Linked DNA regions of Homo sapiens: all the other regions are linked to region 1. The links come from fine-mapping of genetic effects on gene expression. A gene starts in region 1. Each other region holds a variant in brackets. All regions are shown on one strand. Distances are between the middles of the regions.

Region 1 (8,380 bases):
CAGCCAAGAGCTTCATAACTACTCCCTTCTCTTAAAAATTCCTCCTAGGCTGGACGTGGTAACTCACGCCTGTAATCCCAGCACTTTGGGAGGCTAAGGCATGAGGATCTTTTGAGCCCAGGAGTTCAAGACCAGCCTGGGCAACATAGTGAGACCCTGTCTCTACAAAAATAAAATCAACATAATTAGCCTGGTGTAGTGGGCATGCACCTGTAGTCCAAGCTACTCAGGAGGCCGAGGTGGGAGGATCAACTGAGCCCTGGAGGTCGAGGCTGCAACAAGCCATGATCACACCACTGCACTCCAGCCTAAGCAACAAAGTGAGACTCTGTCTCTAAAACATAAAGTGGGAGACTTCCCCACAACAGTGAGAATGAAACAAGTTCTACTGTCCTTTCATCATTTCTGAGCAGTTTGAGATTATCAACAAATGAGCTCACTGATTTTGCAGACATACTTATGTTTTGAATGTATTTCATATAATTTATTATTGGTTTCAGAATCATTTCCTTTTTAAGTAATTTTTTTGGCTCAGCTAATATCTTAGTTGTACCTACCTTTCCATACTTTGTGAGCTTTCTTATTTATACTTAATCTTTCTAAATATACTTGTAAAAATGTAAATGTTAGATCGTTCACTGATAGGCACCAATATCTTTAACAGAAAAGGTTAATTCAAACAAATGTCAGGCTAAACTGACAACAGAAATAAAACTGGTCTTCCCAAGTTCAGTTCCTTGTGGATTTGTTATATTGCTACATATTACACCTAGTTTTATGTGTCTAGATGCTCTGTATCTAGTATACTCTTGAGAGCCTCCAAATATTAATATTTCTTTTTTTTTTGAGATGGGGTGCAGTGGCGTGATTTCAGCTCACTGCAACCTCGGCTTCCCACGATCAAGCGTCCTCCTGCCTCAGCCTACTGAGTAGCTGGGATTACAGGTGCCCACCACCACGCCCAGCTAATTTTTTCTATTTTTAGTACAGATGGGGTTTCAACATGTTGGCTAGGCTGGTCTTGAATTCCTGACCTCAAGTGATTCAACCACCTCGGCCTCCCAAAGTGCTGAGATTACAGGTGTGAGCTACCGTGCCCAGCGAATATTTCTAGATTTTAGCAGTTGCATAAATTCTACTCCAGGAGGCTTAATATAATTGTCCTTAATATAAATGTCACATTTCAAATGACATTCAAAAATGTAAAATGATCAATTTAGAAAAAAAAATTACTCCTACCCACTTCCTCTTTTTCTTTTTCTTTTTTTTTTTTTTGAGACAGAGTTGTACTCTGTCGCCCAGGCTGAAATGCAGTGGCACAATCTCGGCTCACTGAAACCTACGCCTCCTGGGTTTAAGCGATTCTCCTGCCTCAGCCTCCCAAGTAGCTGGGACTACAAGCGCGTGCTACCAAGCCCGGCTAATTTTTTGTATTTTTTAGTAGAGACAGGGTTTCACCATGTTGCCCAGGCTGGTCTCCAACTCCTGAGCTCCGGCAATCCACACGCCCCGGCCTCCCAAAGTGCTAGGATTACACGTGTGAGCCGGCGTGCCCGGCCTCACTTCCTCTTTCATACAAGGTCAGTTCTCACCTATTTCAACCATCAATATGATCGTATTCAAAAAGACCAGGAAGATGATGAAGTTTTTGAAGAGAGGACCTGTTGTCTCTTAAGGAAATGTACAGAGTGGAGTTCTTTCTGATTTATGCAGCTGAAATAATAAGAGCAATAACATAAGCAGTGAAAATGAGACAGTGGAGTATGGGGAGCAAAAAATAAGTCATTAGGCAGATGATCAACAGCCAGGATAAAAATGAGTGACATGAAAGGATACACTCAAGGACCCATCCGGCCCACAAAGAAAGAGGTGGCCTCTGACTGCAGCGCACATGAAGCCTGCTCAACAGCCTCTGGGCATGTGAAATCTGTTCTATACGCTGAGGCTTTATAGAGAAACGCACTAGCTGGTGTTGATCTCCCAATACAAGTTTCTTCTGGCGGGAAGGATCTACAACAAAAATTAAAAAGGGATAGTGGATAAATACAAACAAAATAGACCAGGTAGGGTTGGGGGCAGGGATACTGGTCAGGTAATGGGTTCCCCTAATGCCTTACTGCTAGTCCTTCTCTTCTCACAGCAACTAAGAATTCTGTTTGGAGTGAGAGCAAATGTATTGCTTATGACCAACACTGTCCATGCCCACAAAAGCAGCAGGCTCACTCTCAAAGTTTTAAGAGTCTTTGACAGAAACTCTTCCCAATCATCCATGGCTAGTGGCTATCCTAGGCCTAAAAGTGAAAGACGTGGATTCTATCTCTTCAGTTTTATTTACAAGCCCTTGATTTATCAAGTTTGGTAAACCAGCAACTAAACCTCCCCAGAATTTTCCACTCTTAAATGTAGAGGATGTGGATAGGAGTCTTAAATTTAAATTAGTGAAGAAATAGGCTGCTGACCAAGTAACTCCCTGATAGTGTGCCGCGGCACAGCTTGGCTCAAGCCTTGCAAATGCTCAATGAGAGAGAAAGTATCGATGAGACGTGAACGAATGGCATCAGCTCGGGGAAGCTGCATCTGCTCTTCTTGTTGGTAAGCGGCCATGTCTGCTAAGAAAATGTAAGCATCAAGTGTCATTTCATTCTTGGAGCTGCACCAAGGATTACAGGTTTTCTGTCCCCTCCTCCCCACCCTCTTTACCCTTAAGATTCCTTAATGTACCCACATCTACGAACTAGGAGCAGTTGGGAAGAACAAACATTCTACTAGGACTCAGGGTGTTTTGAAACAAAAGGGGCTAAGTGGTAAAGACATTGCACAGTCGACCAAGCGGCCAGGCATCTTCACTTTGTGATGGCATTTCTAATTAAAACTCATTAAAAACAAAACAAAACAAACAAAAACACCGCAAGAAAAAGGAGCAGCCACAAGGGCAGGGGCCCGGGGCTGGACAAAGAATCTGGGTCCCACCTGTGCCTGAGACAATCGGGCAATGAGGTGGAGTTGGGGGAGGTCTTGGCCTGCTCACGCAAGAGAAACCAAGTGCAGAGAAATTGGACAAAATGCCAAAGCCTGACATTTTGAAAATGGGTCCCGTCCCAAGTGTGTCCACTCCAACACTCCTTCGGGGGCTAGCTCCTTCTCTCCTCCATTCTCGCTTCTGGGCCTCACCTCAGCCCAGGTTCTCTTTGCCCACTCAGTCCTTATTTCACGCTTCCGCCTCCAGCTCAGGTGCCCCGAGCCTGGCTACCCCTATGCAAGACGAGCTCAGGGCCGGCTCCCAGCCTCACTGCGCCCCATTCCCCGCCCCGCTCGACCCCCAGGTTTCGGCTCACCCCGGGACCCGGCCCTAGCCCCTACCCACAGCCCAGGACCATGCGGAGCAACGCTCGCCCAGCCACTCGCCGCCTAGGCCCCGCCCCGCCCCGCTCTCCGGCCACTCAGCGGTAACCAGCTGGTCCCGCCCGCCGGACGAAGGCGACGCGCAGCCAATCAGCGGCTGCCACACAGCGGCCCGAGCCGGGTTTGGGGGTTGGGACCTCCGGCTGCAGGTCCCCTGGGCCAGACGCGCCAGCGCAGGCAGCCGGTTTGTGGTCGCGCGCCCGACCTCCGCAGTCCCAGCCGAGCCGCGACCCTTCCGGCCGTCCCCACCCCACCTCGCCGCCATGCGCCTCCGCCGCCTAGCGCTGTTCCCGGGTGTGGCGCTGCTTCTTGCCGCGGCCCGCCTCGCCGCTGCCTCCGAACTCACGGACGACAACTTCGAGAGTCGCATCTCCTACACGGGATCTGCGGGCCTCATGCTCGTCGGGTTTTTCGCCCCCTGATGACGCCACTCTGCCAAGGCGGGGGAAGAAGGGCCGGGCTGGGCCGGGGCCGGGGGCGAGGGCGCGGGGAACTGTTGGGCCTACGCAGCGCCGGCGCCCTTCATTCCTGTGGGCCCCTGCTGTGGCGGGCACATTTCTCATTCCCGGGAGCTGGAGGTGCCTCGCCGAGAGCGGTGGAGTCGGTGCTGATCGGCCCAAGGAAAACCCGAAGGCTGCGCTCACGCAGGGCCTCATCCTTATCTCGGTGCTCTTGTGGCACTTCCTATTTGCAGAGGGTTTTGCCACCCCTTCCCCCAGTTCAATATGTAGCTATATTGTTTCTGCATGAGTCAGTATTAATGTTACTCCAGTCTACAGACTAGACATCCCAAAGCCTTGTAGTGGAAGCGGACGTTTCACCAAATGCAGAAGTCCTGGATCCCTAGGGTATTTCCTTTCATCTTACCTCACGCCGCACAGCCATTGGTTTCTAGCCAAGGTCACTGAGTGGCTGCAGAATGGTCCTAAGTGCTTTCTTGAGGCAGGCAATTTGTCCGTCACATGGTGTACAGTTTCTCCCTTCAGCTGATCACTTACATCTCAGTACCGGCAGATACCTCTGTCCAAACGAAAAGAGTACCTGAACAAGAATAATTCCATCATAATCTGTCCATATTGTCCATTTTAATTAGGATTTCTTTAAAATGTCAATACTCCGAATAGGAACAGCTCCAGTCGACAGCTCCCAGCATGAGTGACGCAGAAGACGGGTGATTTCTGCATTTCCATCTGAGGTACCCGGTTCATCTCAATAGGGAGTGCCAGACAGTGGGCGCAGGTCAGTGGGTGCGCGCACTGTGCACGAGCCGAAGCAGGGCGAGGCATTGCCTCACTCGGGAAGCGCAAGGGGTCAGGGAGTTCCCTTTCCTAGTCAAAGAAAGTGGTGACAGACAGCACCTGGAAAATCGGGTCACTCCCACCCGAAAACTTCGCTTTTCCGACGGGCTTAAAAAACAGCGCACCAGGAGATTATATCCCGCACCTGGCTCGGAGGGTCCTACACCCACGGAGTCTCGCTGATTGCTAGCACAGCAGTCTGAGATCAAACTGCAAGGCGGCAGCGAGGCTGGGGGAGGGGTGCCTGCCATTGCCCAGGCTTGCTTAGGTAAACAAAGCAGCCGGGAAGCTCGAACTGGGTGGAGCCCACCACAGCTCAAGGAGGCCTGCCTGCCTCTGTAGGCTCCACCTCTGGGGGCAGGGCACAGACAAACAAAAAGACAGCAGTAACCTCTGCAGACTTAAATGTCCCTGTCTGACAGCTTTGAAGAGAGCAGTGGTTCTCCTAGCACGCAGCTGGAGATCTGAGAACGGCCAGACTGCCTCCTCAAGTGGGTCCCTGACCCCTGACCCCCAAGCAGCCTAACTGGGAGGCAACCCCCAGCAGGGGCAGACTGACACCTCACACGGCCAGGTACTCCAACAGACCTGCAGCTGAGGGTCCTGTCTGTTAGAAGGAAAACTAACAAACAGAAAGGACGTCCACACCAAAAACCCATCTGTACATCACCATCATCGAAAACCAAAAGTAGATAGAACCACAAAGATGGGGAAAAAACAGAGCAGAAAAACTGCAAACTCTAAAAAGCAGAGCACCTCTCCTCCTCCAAAGGAACACAGTTCCTCACCAGCAACGGAACAAAGCTGGACGGAGAATGACTTTGACGAGCTGAGAGAAGAAGGCTTCAGACGATCAAATTACTCTGAGCTACGGGAGGACATTCAAACCAAAGGCAAAGAAGTTGAAAACTTTGAAAAAAATTTAGAAGAATGTATAACTACAATAACCAATACAGAGAAGTGCTTAAAGGAGCTGATGGAGCTGAAAGCCAAGGCTCAAGAACTACGTGAAGAATGCAGAAGCCTCAGGAGCCGATGCAATCAACTGGAAGAAAGGGTATCAGCGATGGAAGATGAAATGAATGAAATGAAGCGAGAAGGGAAGTTTAGAGAAAAAAGAATAAAAAGAAATGAGCAAAGCCTCCAAGAAATATGGGACTATGTGAAAAGACCAAATCTACGTCTGACTGGTGTACCTGAAAGTGATGGGGAGAATGGAACCAAGTTGGAAAACACTCTACAGGATATTATCCAGGAGAACTTCCCCAATCTAGCAAGGCAGGCCAACATTCAGATTCAGGAAATACAGAGAATGCCACAAAGATACTCCTCGAGAAGAGCAACACCAAGACACATAATTGTCAGATTCACCAAAGTTGAAATGAAGGAAAAAATGTTAAGGGCAGCCAGAGAGAAAGGTGGGTTACCCTGAAAGGGAAGCCCATCAGGCTAACAGCAGATCTCTCGGCATAAACTCTACAAGCCAGAAGAGAGTGGGGGCCAATATTCAACATTCTTAAAGAAAAGAATTTTCAACCCAGAATTTCATATCCAGCCAAATTAAGCTTCATAAGTGAAGGAGAAATAAAATACTTTACAGACAAGCAAATGCTGAGAGATTTTGTCACCACCAGGCCTGCCCTAAAAGAGCTCCTGAAGGAAGCACTAAACATGGACAGGAACAAACGGTACCAGCCGCTGCAAAATCATGCCAAAATGTAAAGACCATCGAGACTAGGAAGAAACTGCATCAACTAATGAGCAAAATAACCAGCTAACATCATAATGACAGGATCAAATTCACACATAACAATATTAACTTTAAATGTAAATGGACTAAATGCTCCAATTAAAAGACACAGACTGGCAAATTGGATAAAGAGTCAAGACCCATCAGTGTGCTGTATTCAGGAAACCCATCTCACGTGCAGAGACACACATAGGCTCAAAATAAAAGGATGGAGGAAGATCTACCAAGCAAATGGAAAACAAAAAAAGGCAGGGGTTGCAATCCTAGTCTCTGATAAAACAGACTTTAAACCAACAAAGATCAAAAGAGACGAAGGCCATTACTTAATGATCAATTAAGTAATTAAGGCCTTGTTGATCAATTCAACAAGAAGAGCTAACTATCCTAAATATATATGCACCCAATACAGGAGCACCCAGATTCATAAAGCAAGTCCTGAGTGACCTACAAAGAGACTTAGACTCCCACACATTAATAATGGGAGACTTTAACACCCCACTGTCAACATTAGACAGATCAACGAGACAGAAAGTCAACAAGAATACCCAGGAATTGAACTCAGCTCTCCACCAAGCGGACCTAATAGACATCTACAGAACTCTCCACCCCAAATCAACAGAATATACGTTTTTTTCAGCACCACACCACACCTATTCCAAAATTGGCCACATAGTTGGAAGTAAAGCTCTCCTCAGCAAATGTAAAAGAACAGAAATTATAACAAACTATCTCTCAGACCACAGTGCAATCAAACTAGAACTCAGGATTAAGAATCTCACTCAAAACCGCTCAACTACATGGAAACTGAACAACCTGCTCCTGAATGACTACTGGGTACATAACGAAATGAAGGCAGAAATAAAGATGTTCTTTGAAACCAACGAGAACAAAGACACAACATACCAGAATCTCTGGGACACATTCAAAGCAGTGTGTAGAGGGAAATTTATAGCACTAAATGCCCACAAGAGAAAGCAGGAAAGATCCAAAATTGACACCCTAACATCACAATTAAAAGAACTAGAAAAGCAAAAGCAAACACATTCAAAAGCTAGCAGAAGGCAAGAAATAACTAAAATCAGAGCAGAACTGAAGGAAATAGAGACACAAAAAACCCTTCAAAAAATTAACGAATCCAGGAGCTGGTTTTTTGAAAGGATCAACAAAATTGATAGACCGCTAGCAAGACTAATAAAGAAAAAAAGAGAGAAGAATCAAATAGATGCAATAAAAAATGATAAAAGGGATATCACCACCAATCCCACAGAAATACAAACTACCATCAGAGAATACTACAAACACGTCTACGCAAATAAACCAGAAAATCTAGAAGAAATGGATAAATTCCTCGACACATACACTCTCCCAAGACTAAACCAGGAAGAAGTTGAATCTCTGAATAGACCAATAACAGGAGCTGAAATTGTGGCAATAATCAATAGCTTACCAACGAAAAAGAGTCCAGGACCAGATGGATTCACAGCCAAATTCTACCAGAGGTACAAGGAGGAACTGGTACCATTCCTTCTGAAACTATTCCAATCAATAGAAAAAGAGGGAATCCTTCCTAACTCATTTTATGAGGCCAGCATCATCCTGATACCAAAGCCGGGCAGAAACACAACCAAAAAAGAGAATTTTAGACCAATATCCTTGATGAACATTGATGCAAAAATCCTCAATAAAATACTGGCAAACCGAATCCAGCAGCACATCAAAAAGCTTATCCACCATGATCAAGTGGGCTTCATCCCTGGGATGCAAGGCTGGTTCAATATACGCAAATCAATAAATGTAATCCAGCATATAAACAGAACCAAAGACAAAAACCACATGATTATCTCAATAGATGCAGAAAAGGCCTTTGATAAAATTCAACAACCCTTCATGCTAAAAACTCTCAATAAATTAGGTATTGATGGGACGTATC
Region 2 (8,380 bases), 250 kb after region 1:
TAAAGTGACTCCACTTAATAACAAGAGTAAAGGCCCCTAAACTGTTCTCTTTGCTGGGAGAGCTGAGGAATCATGGCCAGAGCCTAATGAGAGGAGCTGAGGGGCTATGTGTGGGGTCTGCAATAGGGCCCTGACATGGCCCTGGGTGAGGAAGAGGCACAGGGCTCAGGAACAAGGGACCTGAGCACTCCCCCAAAAGAAGTCTCCTGGGGGGTTTCTGTTCTTCCATAGGGTACATAACAACGGGTAGTGACTTGAGTTCAAATTCTTGCTCTACCGCTGAGGGCTTGTGAATTTTGGCCTCCTGGAATGCCAGTCTTCTTATCTATAAAACAGGGAGAATAACATCTACCTCCCAGGGCTGGTGTGAGGATTAAATGAGAACATAATGTGAAAAGACTCCACTGAGGCCGCCATGGGAGGCATACCACAAACATCTCTTCTTCCCTCCCTCCCTCTTTCCTTCCAGGAGTTGATGCTATGGGATTGAGATGGCATGACATAAGTGACTGGGTGGCAACAGTGCCTGGTATGAATGCTGGTTCCTCCCTGCAGCCTCTTCAGCCTCTCTGCGTCCAATGATGGACAAACTCACCCAAGACGAGGCTGAGACAGGAGCCTCACAGTCCTGGGGTGCATGTGTATTTGGGTTGGAAACCAGGCTGGCTGCCACTACAGCTTCCAGAATCCCGTGGGCAACGGTGGAGAATCCCTTTCCCCGCTCTAGTCAGTGTAGTGCTCGGGCTCACTGTCTGCCCATCTCTGTGTCTTTTCAACTCTGCTCAGGGACCCGTCTCTGAAGAGGTGGGTGCTATGTGTGGCCTCAAGGGGACTGGGCAGGTTTGGGGTCAAACGCAGAGGTAACCTGGCCCTTTCTGATGAACATATCTTCAGGCAGCCGTCTTTAAGGTCCTAGAGTGACTCAGCAGTTCAGGGAGCAGTTATTGAACACAGACTGTGTACTTTCAAGTGAGGCTCAGAGAAGCTCCCAAAGGCCCCAGTAAACAGGGGATGGGAACCGGAGCCCAGGGCCAGCTTATCCAAAGCTCTCTTCACTCCTGTGTGGGTGCCCTGCTAACAGTATTGGAGCAATTTATGGAGGGGTTTAAACTGCATCTGTTACACAGAGGGCATTGTTTGGAAGTTTTGCTAATGTGTAAATATCCAAATGTCAATTCTCTGGTATAACAGGCATGAATGTGTTTTCTGACAGTGTGGCCCCAAGAACACAGGGGTTACTTTGCAGCAGGCTGTGCTAGTGGATAGGGAACTGTGGGGTAGGGAAGATGACCAGGGTTTCTGAATATCAGGATGTTCTCAAGGTTCATAACTCCTAGGCAAGAATAAATCACCATCTTCTCACCAAGGGACCAAAGGACACTGCTTTGTCCCTATGTCACTGTGCTCATTCATTCCTGGTTTTTTTTTTTTTTTTGAGACAGAGTCTCGCTCTGTCACCCAGGCTGGAGTGCAATGGCATGATCTCAGCTCACTGCAACCTCCACTTCCCGAGTTCATGCGATTCTCCTGCCTCAGCCTCTTGAGTAGCTGGGATTACAGTCATGTGTCACCATGTCTGGCTAGCTTTTTATATTTTTAGTAGAGACAGGGTTTCATCATGTTGTCCAGGATGGTCTTGAACTCCTGACCTTGTGATCCGCCCACCTTGGCCTCCCAAAGTGCTGGGATAACAGGTGTGAGCCACTGCGCCCGGCATTCCTATTTGTTATGCGCTATACACTGTGTCTTCAAAAATTCATATGTTGACATTGTAACCCTCAGTACCTCAGAATGTGACCTTCTTTGAAGACAGGATCTTTACAGAGGTAATTAAGTTAAACTGAGGTCATTAGGATGGGCCCTAATCCAATATGACTGGTGTCTTTGGAGAAATCTGGACAGAGACATGTACAGAGGGAAGAAAGCGTGAAGACACAGGCAGATGACAGCCATCCACAGGCCAAGGAGAGGGGCCTGGAAAGGATCCTTCTCTCAAAGCCCACAGGAAGAACCAACCCTGCTGACACCTTATCTCAGATCTCCAGCCTCCAGAACTGTGAGACAATAGACTTCTGTTCTTTAAGCCACCCAGTCTGTGATACTTGTTACAGAAACCCTAGGAACTAATATACTATTCTTTTAATTTTTGCTTGAAGCTTAGTATCCCCTCTCCAGTTAGGAAGAAAAGGTTGATGTCTTCCTGTTCCTGGCTGATACTGCTTCCTTCAGATCAGCTTGCCAGTTGGTTTTACTGGTGATACTGGACCCTCTCCAGTAATGGAAAGAGAGAGGCAGAAATGTGGAGAAACTGAGGTAGAGACCAGGAGTGTCAAAGCAACAGGGACAGGAGGTAACGTGAAGGGCCACAGCCACAGAGAGAGACTGGAAGGGGCCATGGGTCTGCACAGGCCTCGGCAGTGACTGGCTGCCCCCGCTCATCTCCAAAATGCCAGATGTGCATGAGTAATTACAGAGGTTTTCTCTGGGCAGCCTCCCCGGCTGGTTCTCGTCTATCCCTCACAGGCGCATAATGGCATTAAATGTGACTCCACTGCAGTTCCGTGCAGTGACTTATGCCACTGCAGTCAATAAAACCCACTCTCGGAAAGAAACTAGATTACAGGTCAGGAAAGGGTGGGCAGGCACTGAGCCGCCTCTGATCGTTCTCTGTGGGGGGCCTTCCATATCCCTCCTCTCTTCATTTCTACCAAATTACCCATTGCGGGGCCCTAGCTTTGGATTTGTTATTTAGATTGACTTTGCCTCGGTTCCTCTGACATTGATGTGGCACCACAAAATTATGTAGCATGTGATCCAGAGGAGTTTTCAAAGCAGGCATTTTCTCTGATATCTCACTGAAAGTGCCAGCCATGTAAACGTTGAAGGGGGCCTCTGAGCGCAGGCATGGGGGCTCTTGCTCCTGATGCCTTCTAGAGGAGGAAAGGTCATGCAGTCTCCAACCAGGGGGTCTTACCTTACATGGGTGAGGATCCACTCCATATGTTTCCAATGTCTGTGCTTTTCTTAAGAAGTTCAGCTCTGATGTTGCTGGTGTTTGACCACTGGAATAAAGAAGATGAGATGATTTCAAGGTGTCTTGTTCCCACAGGTTCCCCTGAGGTAAACTCTCTATGAAGATGTGCTTAGGATGAGCCACACATCTCAGTTTGTCTAGGGTGTGCTCCCTGCTTGGTTCTAGGACCAACTTCGAGACTCCTGCTAGAGTCTCTGACTGTCTTCAAACGTTTTCAGAGTGAGGCAGGCTACATAATGAATTACTTGGGCTGAGTGTAAACAATGGGGAGTGGTGGGGACTGTGGCAGCACCATCTTAACTCTGAGATTCCCATCACTGAGAATGCAGGGCCCACTACTTGGGAGGCTGAGGTGGGAGGTGGGAGGATTGCTTGAGCCCAGGAGTGCGAGGTTTCAGTGAGCTATGGTCACAGCCCTACACTCCACCCTGAGTGACAGAATGAGACCCTGTCTCAAAAAAAAAAAAAAAAGAATGCAAGGCTTAGCTAGATATTGTGATTTTAAAAGAAAAGTCAGAGATACTGATTTTTATGTGGTATTTCACAATTTAAAATACTATGGGGTAAAACAAAATACATCTGTAGGCTGGAAGCAGGTCATAGGCTTCTCATATGTGATCTGTTCTAGACTGAAATATAAAGAAGGGGCTCATATAGCTTGCTGGTGCCACCCAGCCCTCTTCCTTTGCCAAAAGGAAACACAGGAAATTAGGGTGAGGAGAGGCAGGAGACAGTGCTGAGCTCCCATGCTCCACAACAGCTGTCTGTCCATAGGGTGATGACCAGGAAAATGAAAGATGCTGAAAAAGGCAGAGATCAGCTCCGGCTCCAGGCCATCTGAAGGGGCCTTTGGCATCACCCCTTCCCACTGCCTCTTTAGCAGGTGTGTTGATGGGCTCATTGCAGACCCAGTGGCAGAATAACCATCAGGCTCTTGCCTGGGTCCAGAGCCCTGCAAAGCAGATATACTTCTACAGATACAGGTTTGGCTTCAGTGAGGAGGGGTGGGCAGCTTGTGAAGTCAACATCTCTGATGGCTGGTGGACAGGACTGCACGTTGCTCGTTTCTAAGCTTATCATTTGCCTCAGGTGATATGGCCAGGCAGGAAGATAAGCTGACCCCAGGCCAGATTCCCCCTAGTGTCCCTCTGGAGAGGCATTAGTCAGGCAGCACCTTTATGTGCCAGCCTCTGTGCTACTTGCTGGAAAATATATGAAGAAACACAGTATACAGTCTGTGCTCTCAAAAGCCCATATCACAGTTGCATAAAGGAAGCATGGATGTATTTTTACATTATGAAGACGAGGCAGGACCTATGGAAAAAGTACCTGTGGAAGGGGGTATTGCTGTGAATAAAGACTTCTGCATCCACTAGTGTACCTGAGGCACAGGGAAGGTAAGTTAGGAAAATATCTGTGTGGCAAGCAAAGGGCTGGCTAGAGCACAGCTTCCCTTTCCAGGGAGTGTCCTCTGTCTGCAGGGGGAGTGGGCCCTGTGGGCTCCATTTACCCTTGGAGTTGGCCCAAACCTCCAGGGTCCTCAAAGCGGGCATCATTTCCTGGGGGATCCCCTGCTTTGAACTAGGTTTCTGGAGGGCTGTCCCTACTATTCTGATGTCTCCTAAAGCCCTCCAGGCAGTTCCAGCACATCCCTGATCTCTTTGAAGGAACCATGAGGCCCCTGCCCCCAACACCACAGGCCCGTGTTTATTCTGATTTTTACCACAAGGGGTCGCTATTCCCTAACAGAGTGACTTGAGGAGCCATGGGGTCCTGCACCTGGGAAGGCACACCGAGGGAGAGGGGCGGGAAGCATCTAAGATTCCATTTGTTCGGTGTCGCCATTC[C/G]GCTGGGAGGGTCAGGAACCCCTCCTGCCACAAGGCATGGGCAGAGGGGTCTGTTTACAAAGGCTAAGGAGGCTTTGGGTTATATTTGTTGGTAAAATCATTGAGTGAAGGGTTTCTGGGGGGCCTGTGGTCGGGGAAGGAACAAGTTGAAGCTTAGTATTAGCATTAGAAATATCCAGCTCTGCTCCCTGTTGCCAGGCATAGTCTTTCCTCGGAACAGTAGATACACAAACCTTTTAAAATATTTTTTTAAAGCTGTAATGTATTATAATGACAACATAACTTTTTTTTATTTTTAATTTTTTGAGACAGGGTCTCGCTCTGTGGCCCAGGCTGGCATGGAGTGGTGCAATTCCAGCTCACTGCAACCTCCACCTCCCAGGTTCAAGTAATTCTCATGCCTCAGACTCCTGAGTAGCTGGGATACAAGCGTGTGCCACCACATCTGGCTTTTTTATTTATTTACTTTCATTTTTAGTAGAGACAGGGTTTTCGCCATGTTGCCCAGGCTGGTCTCGAACTTCTGACCTCAGGTGATCTGCCCTCCTCCGCCTCCCAAAGTGCTGGGATTACAGGTGTGAGCCACTGCGCTTGGCCAACACTGCATTCTATATCCTTTTTCCTCATAGTTTGTCAGTTTGGGGAATCTGTGCCGTAACCAAATGGAGCCCAAACACCCTATTGTTGCTTTTTAAAATCAGGCTTTGTAGAAAATCCTACTTCATGTGGGTGAAAAGCTGCATTAATGCTGTTTTATGGTATTCAGCATATTCTGGGCAAAGTAAGAGAAGCTGAGAAAGATGAGGCTCCAAACTTGAAGCCACGTCTCCTCCACTTCTCTCTGTGCAAAGTCGGGGACTCCAGGTAGGGTATGGGGGGGGCCTGAGTCAGGCGGGGCTGAGGACATACTTCTGAACCAGAGTGCTCCCAAGGCACCCTCAGCATTTATGAATCAGCCCTGCGCACTCCATCCTCCACTGAGAAGCCACCTGTCACACTGTCACAGACTAAGAGCAGAAGCCTGCCCTTTTTCACATCCTCACTCAACCTCTCCTTTTTTTTTTTTTTTTTTTGAGATGGAGTCTCGCTCTGTCACCCAGGCTAGAGTGCAATGGCGCAACCTCAGCTCACTGCAACCTCTGCCTCCTGGGTTCAAGCGATTCTCCCGCCTCAGCCTCCGGAGTAGTTGGGATTACAGGCACCTGCCATCATGCCTGGCTAATTTTTGTATTTTTAGTAGAGATGGGTTTTCACCATGTTGGCCAGGCTGGTCTTGAACTCCTGGCCTCACGTGATCCACCTGCCTCGACCTCCCAAAGTGCTGGGATTACAGCCGTAAGCCACCGCGCCTGGCCTTTTTCTTTCATCTTTTTTATCTTATGCAATTTCCTTTATCTTTTCCTTTTCCCCAGTTCATGCTTTCCTCTGTATCTTCATTAAATATCATAGTGAGGCAGATGCCTTTCAAAGGCCAATCCCTCTCTGTTTCCCCTATAACACAACTTCTCCCTTGTCTTTAAGCTTCAGGCTAAATCGCTTTTCTTGGAGAGGGAGCCTACAGGGCTTGTGGCTGTGACTTGTGCTGTCAGTGTATCACTGACAATGGTACATCCGCGGTCAGGAAGGCTGGGGAGCATCACTCTGTGTCAGTAAACAGTCTGCGAGAACAGAGGACACGGCGTGGAGCCTGCGTGCTCAGGCTGTGGAGAAGCCACAATGTTCTGGGCCTGATTAAGTGCCACGTACCTCAGTTCCGTCTTGTGAATCTCAGCAATTTTCCTTTCCAGCTTCTCTGAATGTTTAGGGAAAAACTGGAACTTGGAGCTGTAGCCTTCAGGGTGTTTCCCTGAGTCATAATCCCCAATCTCCGCTTTCAAAAGGAAGGTGGAAGAAAACAATTGTGGAGACAGGTAAATCATCATTGACAAAGCAACAAGAGATTAGCACACAGAGCAAAAGCCAAAATACACATCAGATTTATAAGAAACAGTGGATTCTGAGCACGGCTGTGGGCTGGGCAGAGGGCAGGCCCTTCAGGAGCATGTCCACCTTTGTTTTTCCAGGTGCACACACTGGGTTGGCATTCAAGTCTATGCAGAGAGACAGAGAGCTGACCTTGTGTTCTGAGGTCACCACAAGTAAATTTACAATGAAAGAGCAGAGGCCTGCACTATGGTCCTCATCCATTCCGCCATGAGAAGATGGTCTGGGAGCAATGGTCTTTGTGGCAGCACAGGAAGTGGTGAGCTTGATCAGAAAGGGAGATCCTCTTGGGCCTCAGCCAGATCATAAGTCTAAATCCTAGTTTGAGGATGTTAGCAGGGACACAGTAAATTGATGAATGAGCTGCGATCCAAATTCAGAACTCAACCCTCAGTTCAAATCAAATCAAATTAATAAATTTGAATAAATATTCATTAAGGGCTGACCAGGTGCCAGGTTCCTTCGAGAGGCCTACAGAGTGGGAAGCCTGGCTGTAACTAGAAAGTATCGTTGAGTTCAGAAGCATCAAGTTCTTTTTTTTTGTTTGTTTGTTTTTAGACGGAGTCTCACTCTGTAGCCCAGGCTGGAGTGCAGTGGTGCGATCTTGGCTCACTGCAAGCTCCGACTCCTGGGTTCACGCCATTCTCCTGCCTCAGCCTCCCGCGTAGCTGGGACTACAGGCGCCTGCCACCTCGCCCGGCTGATTTTTTGTATTTTTAGTAGAGACGGGGTTTCACCGTGTTAGCCAGGATGGTCTCGATCTCCTGACCTCGTGATCCGCCCGCCTTGGCCTCCCAAAGTGCTGGGATTACAGGCGTGAGCCACCGCACCCGGCCGAGAAGCATCAAGTTCTAAGGCTCATTTCTCAAGTCCCTGCCAGGTGTGAGCCTTTCTCCTCCAGCTATTCAGAGAGAGTTTATCTCTAAACCTGGTAAGATCTCAGGGCAGTAAACTTTAGGAGGGCAGAAGACCCACGGTACTTTCCACACCCAGGTCAGAATCCAGCTTTTTCCACGTGAAGCTCTCCACAGGGAGGATGGTGGGTAGGACAAAAGAAAGAGGAGGGGCCAGCTACTCTGTGGGTGCCCTTTTTCCTTCCCAGGTGAGAGCCACAACCACTTCAGATGTGAAGTCTTGAGGGAGGAGAAATATTAAGAGGAAAAGGTGCCCTCCTCCCATGGCTGAATATTGTACTTGGGACTTGTACTTTTTCACTACAAACCTACTCACTGTATCTTCCAAATTACTTGGGAACTTCTACTGTTAGCAAGAGACCCAAGTCTGAAGTCTGGGGTGACCTTGAGCCTTGCAGTCTTTTTTCTTTTGAGACAGGGTCTCACTGTCATGCACGCTGGAGTGCAGTGGCATGATCATAGCTCACTGTAGCCTCGACCTCCTGGACTGAAGTGATCCGCCCACCTCAGCCTATAGCTGAGACTACAGGTGCACACCCCAGGCCTAGCTTTTTTTTTTTTTTTTGAGACAGAGTCTGGCTCTGTCACCAGGCTGGAGTGCA
Region 3 (8,380 bases), 940 kb before region 1:
TGCTTTGAATAAACTTTCTACTCCCCTCCGTTCTCATTCTGCACTCCCTCTTGAATGCCAGTGACTCGTACATTTGTTTTTTTTGTTTTGTTTGTTTTTTTTTTTTTTAGATGGAGTCTTGCACTGTTCACCCAGGCTGGAGTGCAGTGGCACAATCCCTGCCCACTGCAGCCTCCGCCTCCAGGGTTCAAGCAATTCTCCTGCCTCAGCCTCCCAAGTAGCTGAGATTATAGGCGCCAGCCACCATGCCTGGCTGATTTTTTTTTTTTTTTTGTATTTTTAGTAGAGACAGGGTTTCACCATGTTGGTCACGCTGGTCTTGAACTCCTGACCTCATGATCCACCCACCTCGGCCTCCCAAAATACTAGGATTACAGGCGTGGGCCACCGCGCCTGGCCACATTTGTTCTTTTGACACTATCACACAGATTCTTTAAGCTTTCTTTTGTTCTTTTTCATTCTTTTTTTCTTTCCTCCTCTGTATTTTCAAATATCCTGTCTTTGAGCTCACAGATTTATTCTTCTGCTTTATAATTTCTGCTGTCAAGACAGCATTTTAATGCATTTTTGTTTGTTCAGTGTATTTCACCTCCAGGATTTCTGTTTGATTTTTAAAAGATTATTATTATTATTTACTTATTTATTTATTTTGAGATGGAGTTTCACTCTTGTTGCCCAGGCTGGAGTGCAGTGGCGTGATCTTGGCTCACGGCAACCTCCGCCTCCCGGGTTCAAGCGATTCTCCTGCCTCAGCCTCCCGAGTAGCTGGGATTACAGGCACCTGACACAGCGCCCGGCTAATTTTTTTTGTATTTTTAGTAGAGATGGGGTTTTACCATGTTGGTCAGGCTGGTCTCGAACTCCTGACCTCAGGTGATCTGCCTGCCTCGGCCTCCCAAAGTGCTGGGATTACAGGCATGAGCTACCACGCCTGGCCAAGATTATTTTAATCTCTTTGTAAAGTTTCTCTCATAGATTTCTGAATTATTTCTCTGTGTTTTCTTGAAGTTTATTGGGCTACCTCAAAACAACTATTTTGAATTCCCTGTCTTAGATTATACTTCTCAATCTCTTCAGGATGGATCACTGGCACCTTATTTAGTTGGTTTGGTGAGGTCATAGTTCCCTTAATGTTCTTGATGCTTTCCAATGTGTGTCAATATCTGGGCATTGAAGAAATTGATATATATTCCAATTTTTGCAATCTGGCCTTGTTTGTACCTGTCTTTCAGAGAGCCTTCCAGGAATTCAAAGGAGCCTGACTGTTGAGTTCCCTAAGCCTGTGGTCACTGTAGCCATCTTAGCGCTAGAGGGCACTGTAAGCCTATGTAGCTGGGACTCTGTTACAGACTCCAATGTCCCTGGCCCCGATGGACCTGAGTAAGACCCAGGGAGAGTTCCCCACCTCGTGTGGTAATGCTGGCCAGGGCCCTGAACCAGGTGCTGGTTTTGTTGTTGTGGGCTTGGTACTGGGTTCCAAGGAAAAGTTTCATGCATAATTCGGTCTCCTTCCCTAAAGTAGATGGTGTCTTTCTCTGTACCATGTTGCCTACAGTTGGAGGGAAAGGTGATGTGGGCAGTCCTGTGGCTGCCACAGCTGATGCTATGCAGGGCTACACCTGAAGCCTATGGCCTCTTGGACCAGGGTGGAAATGGGTCATGCCCAAGGCCCAGGCTGCTACCATGCTGAAATTTATTTGGGGCCCAGTGATGTGAGAATCCCATTCATCCTGATGGGGTGGGGAATTCCTTTCTGGTGCTTAGTGTGGGTCCACAATCTTTGTCCGTGGGCACAGGCCTGGAATTAGGCTGTGGGGTTTTTTCTGGTTCTGTGTATTACTGTGGCAGACTTAGTACTGGGCTCTAAGGCAAAGTCCCATGTCCACTAACCTCTCCTTCTGCCATGTGGGCGGTGTCTCTCATCACTACCTAGGGTTGGGGAAGGGTTGGTACAGATAATATGAGACTGTCCTTCCTATTATCTTTAATGCATCTTCTTCTCCTTGTAAAATCTAGTACTTTTATCTATCAACTGGTTTTCCTAGCTCTAGCGAAGATATTTTCTTTTGTGGATTGTTGTTCAAATTGATGTTTCTGTGGGGAACTATCACTGACGGGTCCTATTCTGCCATCTTGTTGTGCCTCTGTGTTACTGATCTGTTGTTTGTTTATTTTTTTGAGATGGAGTCTTGCTCTGTCACTCAGACTGGAGTGCTGTGGCGCCATCTTGACTCACTGCAACCTCCGCCTCCCAGGTTCAAGCGATTCTTCCTGGCTCAGCACTCCGAGTACCTGGGACTACAGGCATGCATCACCCTCCATGCCTGGCTAATTTTTCTTGTATTTTTAATAGAGATGGGGTTTTCAGTGTTGGCTAGGCTGGTCTCAAACTCTTGACCTCAGGTGATTTGCCCACCTCAGCTGAACAAAGTGCTGGGATTACAGGCATGAGCTACTGCACCCAGCCTGTTGTTTGTTTGTTTATTTTTTATTTTTTGAGATGGAGTCTCACTCTCTCACTCGGGCTGGAGTGCAGGGGCGTGATCTCAGCTTACTGCAACCTCCACCTCCTGGGTTCAAGCGATTCTCTTGTCTCAGCCTGCTGAGTAGCTGGGATTACAGGCGCCTGCCCCCACGCCTGGCTAATTTTTGTGTTTTTAGTAGAGATGGGGTTTCACCATGTTGGCCAGGCTTTTCTCAAACTCCTAACCTCGAGTGATCTGCCTACCTCAGCCTCCCAAAGTGCTGGGATTACAGGCGTGAGCCACCGCACCCGTCCTGTTGTTTATTTTTTATATGAAATTTAGGATCACCTTGTCTAGTTCAATTGCAAGAACTTGTTACTATTTTTAATAGGATCATGTGGATTGACTTAGGGAGAAACCACGTCTTATGCTATAGAACTTTCTAACCAAAAATGTACTAGGTTCAAGCTTTCTTTTTATGTTTTTAAAGTTTTCTTCATATGTCTCTCACATTTCTTGTCAGATTTATTTCTAAGTATTTTAAGTTTTTTGTTACTCTTGTAAATAGGTTTTTTCGTTCCTTTATATCTTCTGATTATTTTGTGTGTATTAAAGCTATAGATTTCTGTGAATTAATTTTGCATCTATTTTTTTGGTTGATTCTCTAGACCTGCACTACTAATTTAGTAGCTGCTAATACATGTACCTATCTTAATTTTTTTTTTTTTTTGAGACAGTGTCTTGCTCTGTTGCCCAGGCTGGAGTGCAGTGGCATGATCTCGGCTCACTGCAACCTTCGCCTCAATCTTTAAGCGATTCTCCTGCCTCAGCCTCCCGAAGAGCTGGGATTACAGGCGCCTGCCACCATGCCTGGCTAATTTTTGTATTTTTAGTAGAGATTGGGTTTCACCATGCTGGCCAGGCTCGTCTCGAACCCCTGACCTCAGGTGATCCACCCATCTCGGCCTCCCAAAATGCTGAGATTACAGGCGTGAGCCACCACACCTGGCTTTTTTATAGCTTTTGAGCTGAGATAGATATATTTTTGCAATACTAAGGAAATATCCAACTATTCCTACTTTATAGCATATTCTTATCCAGAATGGGTATTTCAGAGTCTTTGGAGATGATTTCATTCATTCATCCATCCATCTATCTATTTTGGGGCTAATATTGAACTATTCTTGCATTCCTGGAATAAATCCTATAATATATATTTATGATTCTGATATACTATTCTTTTAATGTGTTGGAGTCCAGTTATATTTTAGAATTTTGCATCCATATTTGAATTTTTCTGTGGTTTTTGCTTTCACAATATATTCCTTAGGTTTTGTTATTACTTTATACTCCTTTAATAGGAAAGAAAGGTGGTAGTTTTCTTTTTCAAGGTTTATGAATAGTTAAAAAAGTAATAAAAACTTTATACTTATTAAGTTGGCAAAATTTAGGAAGCCAGATGATGCCAGATTTTGGCAGGACTTTGAGGATATTGGAACCATTACAGGTTCCTATGACTCAGCAATGTTTGCATAGGTTATGAGAGAACATGTAAGGAATTGTTTATTAAGGCATTATTTGAAGTGGCAATGAGTTGGAGGACATTCGCAAATCCATCACTGAGAAGAGTGGATAGGTAAAATGTGGTAGTTGCACACATGAAATATTAATACTATGCAAGACTCGAAATCAGCAGATTAAACACCTAGGCAGAATACTGAGTGAAAAACTTTTTTTTTTTTTTTTTTTGAGACAGAGTCTTGCTGTGTCGCCAAGGCTGGAGTGCAGTGGCACGATCTCGGCTCACTCCAGCCTCCGACTCCTGGGCTCAAGAAATTCTCCTGCCTCAGCCTCCCCAGTAGCTGGGACTACAGGTGCCTGCCACCATGCCCAGCTTATTTTTTTGTATTTTTAGTGGAGACGGACTTTTACTATGTTGACCAGGCTGGTCTTGAACTCCTGACCTCATGATCCGCCCATAAGATGAGATATATTACTATTTGTGAATTAAACAACATATACAGTATATAAATACAACATACACAACAATCACTTTT[T/C]GCAAGAACACATACAAACAAAAAGATACACTCTAAGCACATCAGAATGATTTGGATGGGAGTGTGAAATGGGGATGAAAAGTAAAAAAATTTGAGAGCCAGACACGGTGGCTCACATCTGTAATCTCAGCACTTTGGGAGGCTGAGGCAGGAGGATTGCTTGAGCCCAGGAGTTTGAGTCCAGACAGGGCAACATAGAAAAAAAAAAAAAAGCCAGGGTGGTGCTGCACACCTGTAGTCCTAGCTACTCAGGAGGCTGTGGTGGGAGGATTGCTTGAGCCTGGGAAGTCGAGGCTGTGGTGAGCTGTGACCATGCTGCTGCACTCCAGCCTGGGTGACACAGCAAGACCCTGTTTCAAAAAAAAAAAATTTCTTTTGAATCATCTTTTAAAGTTTGATATAATAATCCTTTTAAATTGACAAGGCTTGGTGTTTCAGTAGGGGATTAGTTATTTGAAAAACTTCTTCAATGGAAGATGGTCTGTTAAGATCAGGGGTTAGCAAACTATGGCCCTTTGGCCAGATCTGGCCTGCTTCCTGTTTTTGTAAATAAAGTTTTACCGGAATACAGTCATGCCCATTCATGTACATGTCTTCTATGGTTGTGTTCCCACTACAGTGGCAGAGAGTTGAGTAGCTGCAGCTACTCAAATGGCCCACAAAGCCTTAAATATTCAGTATCTAGCTCCCCACAGAAAAAGTTTTGCCAGCCTTTGGTTTAGATATTTCATCTCTCCTGGAGCCCCTTTTGATTCTAACTTATTCATTTCTGTGTATGTTGTTATCAGTTTCTTTTTCCTATTGTGATAGTTTCTCAGTCTTTTCTTGCTTCGTGGTTAGTAATTTTTTGGAATGTATTTATCTGCTGTTTCTTGCTTTTTTTCTTTTTTTTTTCATGTAAGACAGGTAATGTGCTGACGTAACAAGGTTTGAGAGAGGCACTTCTGAGACATGTATGTGAAAACCCGATCGTCATGCTTACGAACTACAAAAGGATCGTGTCTGTGGTTTTCTTATGGTTGGATTGAAGTTATGCGTTTTTGGCAAAAAAAATACCATAGAAGTGATTTGCCCTTCTGAAGGTTGACAGATTAGGCAAAGAAAAATACAGGATGCTAGTTAAATTCAAATTTTAGACAACAAATAGTTTTATAGTATAAGTATGTCTCATGCAATACCTTATTCTCGGTGCATTGTATCAGAGGTTACCGGATACCGACATGTCCTGTTTCTGGTGATGTGAACTTTGATGTTAAGGTGGTGGTTGGGGGTCTCTCCACTGAATGTTGCTATATTGTCCTTTATGATTAATGAACATGGCTGAATGTGGTGGCTGACGCCTGTAATCCCAGTGCTTTGGAAAGCTGAGGCAGGAGGATCACTTGAGTCCAGTATTTTGAGATCAGCCTAGGCAACATAGTGATACGCCATCTCTACACACACACACACAAAAGCTATGTTGGTGGTGCATGCCTGTGGTCCCAGCTACTTGGGAGGCTGAGGTGGGAGGATCGCTTGAGCCTGGAGGGGAATGGAGGCTGCAGTGAGCCATGATTACATCATTGGCCTTGGACAGAGGGAGACCCTGTCTCAAAAAATCTTGGAGACTAGCTGGGCAAGGTGGCTCACGCCTGTAATCCCAGCACTTTGGGAGGCAGAGGCGGGCGGATCACGAGGTCAGGAGTTCAGGAACAGCCTGGTCAGCATGGTGAAACCCCGTCTCCACTAAAAATACAAAAATTAGCCAGGCATGGTGGCACACGCCTGTAGACCCAGCTACACAGAAGGCTGAGACAGGAGAATAGTTTGAACCCGGGAGGCGGGGTTTGCATTGAGCTGAGATGGCGCCACTGCACTCCAGCCTGGGTGACAGAGCAAGACTCCATGCCCCACAGCAGCCCCCCAAAAAAATATTGGAGATGATGGAAAATCCTGTTTTTCCTCAAACTTTCATCCACTGATTTTAGTGTCTACTGGTGTATCTTACCTGTAAAAATTATTACTGTGATATTTTAGGGAATTTTGTATTTCCCTCATTTATTCTACATTTATTAATTGGAACTTTTCTCTAAGAAAGTGCAGTCCCTTCTTCCGCCACTTAATTTATTCAACTATTTAATTTTTTTCAGTTTGGAATCATATTCTTTGGGGCGTAATTCAATACAGTACTGTCATTATTAATTTCATTGTTCAACTTGTTCCAGCTTTAATTATTTGGAGTTCTTTCAGCTTGGGTCTTGTGTCCTTTTGACATGCCCTGTCTTTTTTTTTTTTTTTTTTTTGAGACAGGGTCTTGCCGTGTTGCCCAGGCTAGAGTGCAGTGACACAATCATGGCTCACTGCAGCCTCGACCTCCCTGGGCGCCGGTGATCCTCCCACCTCAGCCTCCTGAGTACCTGGAGTACAGGTGTGCACCACCATGCCCGGGTACTTTTGTATTTTTGTTTTCTAGAGATGGGGTTTTACCATGTTGCCCAGGCTGGTGTTGAACTCCTGGGCTCAAGGGATCTGCCCGCCTGAGCCTCCCAAAGTGTTGGAATACGGACGTGAGCCACCGTGCCTGGCCCTTGAGCACTTCTTTAATTGATTTTTTTATTGTTATAATCCATTGGCTTTAGTATATTCATAGAGTTGTGTATCCATCACCAATTTTAGGACATTTTCATTACCCCCCTAGTTATTCCCTAAATTCACCATTCCCCAGCCCTTGGCAACCACGAATCTACTTTCTGTCCCCATGGATTTGCCTATTCTGGACATTTCATATAAATGGAATTACACAATATATGATCCTTTTTGATGGCTTCTTTCTCCTAGCGGAATGTTTTCAGGATTGTGTTAGTTTCTTAGAATTGCTGTAACAAATTACCACTCACAGAGTGGCTTCAAACCACAGACATTTATGCTCTCATAGTTCTGTAGGCTAGAAGTCCAAAATGTTGGTGTTAGCAGCACCATACTCCCTCAGAAAGCTCCTGGGAGAAGGATCTGCTCCAAGCCTCTTTCCAGGCTTCTGATGGGTTACCAGCAATCCTTGGCATTCACTCCCATTTCTATCTCTGTCTTCACATGACATTCTTGCTCTCACTTGTGCGCTCTCTCTCTCTCTCTCTCTCTCTGTGTGTGTGTGTCTGTCTCCCTGTCTGTTTGTCCCCGTGTTTTCACATAGCCTTCTTTTTTTTTTTTAATTTAACTTTTTTTTAAGAGACAGGGTCTCTGTCACCTGGACTGGACTGCTGTGGTGCAATCACAGCTCATTCTTACCTGCAACACCTGACCTCAAGTGATCCTCCCGCCTCAGCCTCTCAAAGTGCTGAAATTACCATCGTAAGCTACCACATAACTTTTTTTTTTTTTTTTTGGAGACAGAGTCTTGCTCTGTTACCCAGGCTGGAGTGCAGTGGCACGATCTCGGCTCACTGCAACCTCTGCCTCCTGGGTTCAAGCAATTCTCCTGCCTCAGCCTCCCAGGTAGCTGGGATTACAGGCATCCGCCACCACGCCCCGCTAATTTTTTGTATTTTTAGTAGAGACGGGGTTTCACCATGTTGGCCAGGCTGGTCTCCAACTCCTGACCTCAGGTGATCCACTCGCTTCAGCCTCCCAAAGTGCTGGGATTACAGGCGTGAGCCACTGCACCCAGCTCCACATAGCCTTCTTATAAGGACATTAGTCATTGGATTTAGGGACCACTCTAATCCAGTACTATCTTATATTAACTTGGTTACATCTGCAGGGACCTTATTTTCAAATTAGGTCAAATTCACAGATACTGGGAAAATACTTCAACATATTTTCAGTGGAGACAGTGATTTAACCCACAACAAGGGGTCCTTCATGTTGTAAAATATATGAGAG

Alleles and levels. Positions count from the first base shown, and alleles are read on the strand shown. Sizes are in standard deviations (SD) of each study's normalised expression. Not every link is listed here.
As copies of C replace T in region 3, the expression in uterus of the gene that starts at base 3,387 in region 1 goes down (large effect, 1.2 SD a copy in GTEx).

Evidence for each region.
Region 2: its variant is fine-mapped to the expression of CATSPER2 in esophagus muscle (GTEx, PIP above 0.99). The same link has a PIP of 0.9 or more in ovary and thyroid.
Region 3: its variant is fine-mapped to the expression of CATSPER2 in uterus (GTEx, PIP above 0.99).

Annotation. Positions count from the first base shown.
Region 1 is chr15:43,645,458-43,653,837 of GRCh38, forward strand. It overlaps CATSPER2 (cation channel sperm associated 2), which reads right to left and starts at 3,387. Exons shown (of 13, transcript NM_172095.4): 1 at 3,172-3,387; 2 at 2,460-2,606; 3 at 1,837-2,010; 4 at 1,593-1,661. The coding sequence starts at 2,604. It also overlaps the pseudogene PPIP5K1P1-CATSPER2 and the pseudogene PDIA3P2.
Region 2 is chr15:43,899,201-43,907,580 of GRCh38, forward strand. FRMD5 (FERM domain containing 5) reads right to left here. Exons shown (of 14, transcript NM_032892.5): 6 at 6,628-6,751; 7 at 2,975-3,062. Among named protein-coding and RNA genes, the nearest start is that of WDR76, 76 kb to the left of the region's middle. The variant C/G (reference allele first, on the strand shown) is at 4,882.
Region 3 is chr15:42,703,274-42,711,653 of GRCh38, forward strand. All of the region lies in intron 26 of STARD9 (StAR related lipid transfer domain containing 9), which reads left to right. LOC124903605 (small nucleolar RNA U13) reads right to left here and starts at 5,519; the gene lies at 5,419-5,519. The variant T/C (reference allele first, on the strand shown) is at 4,523.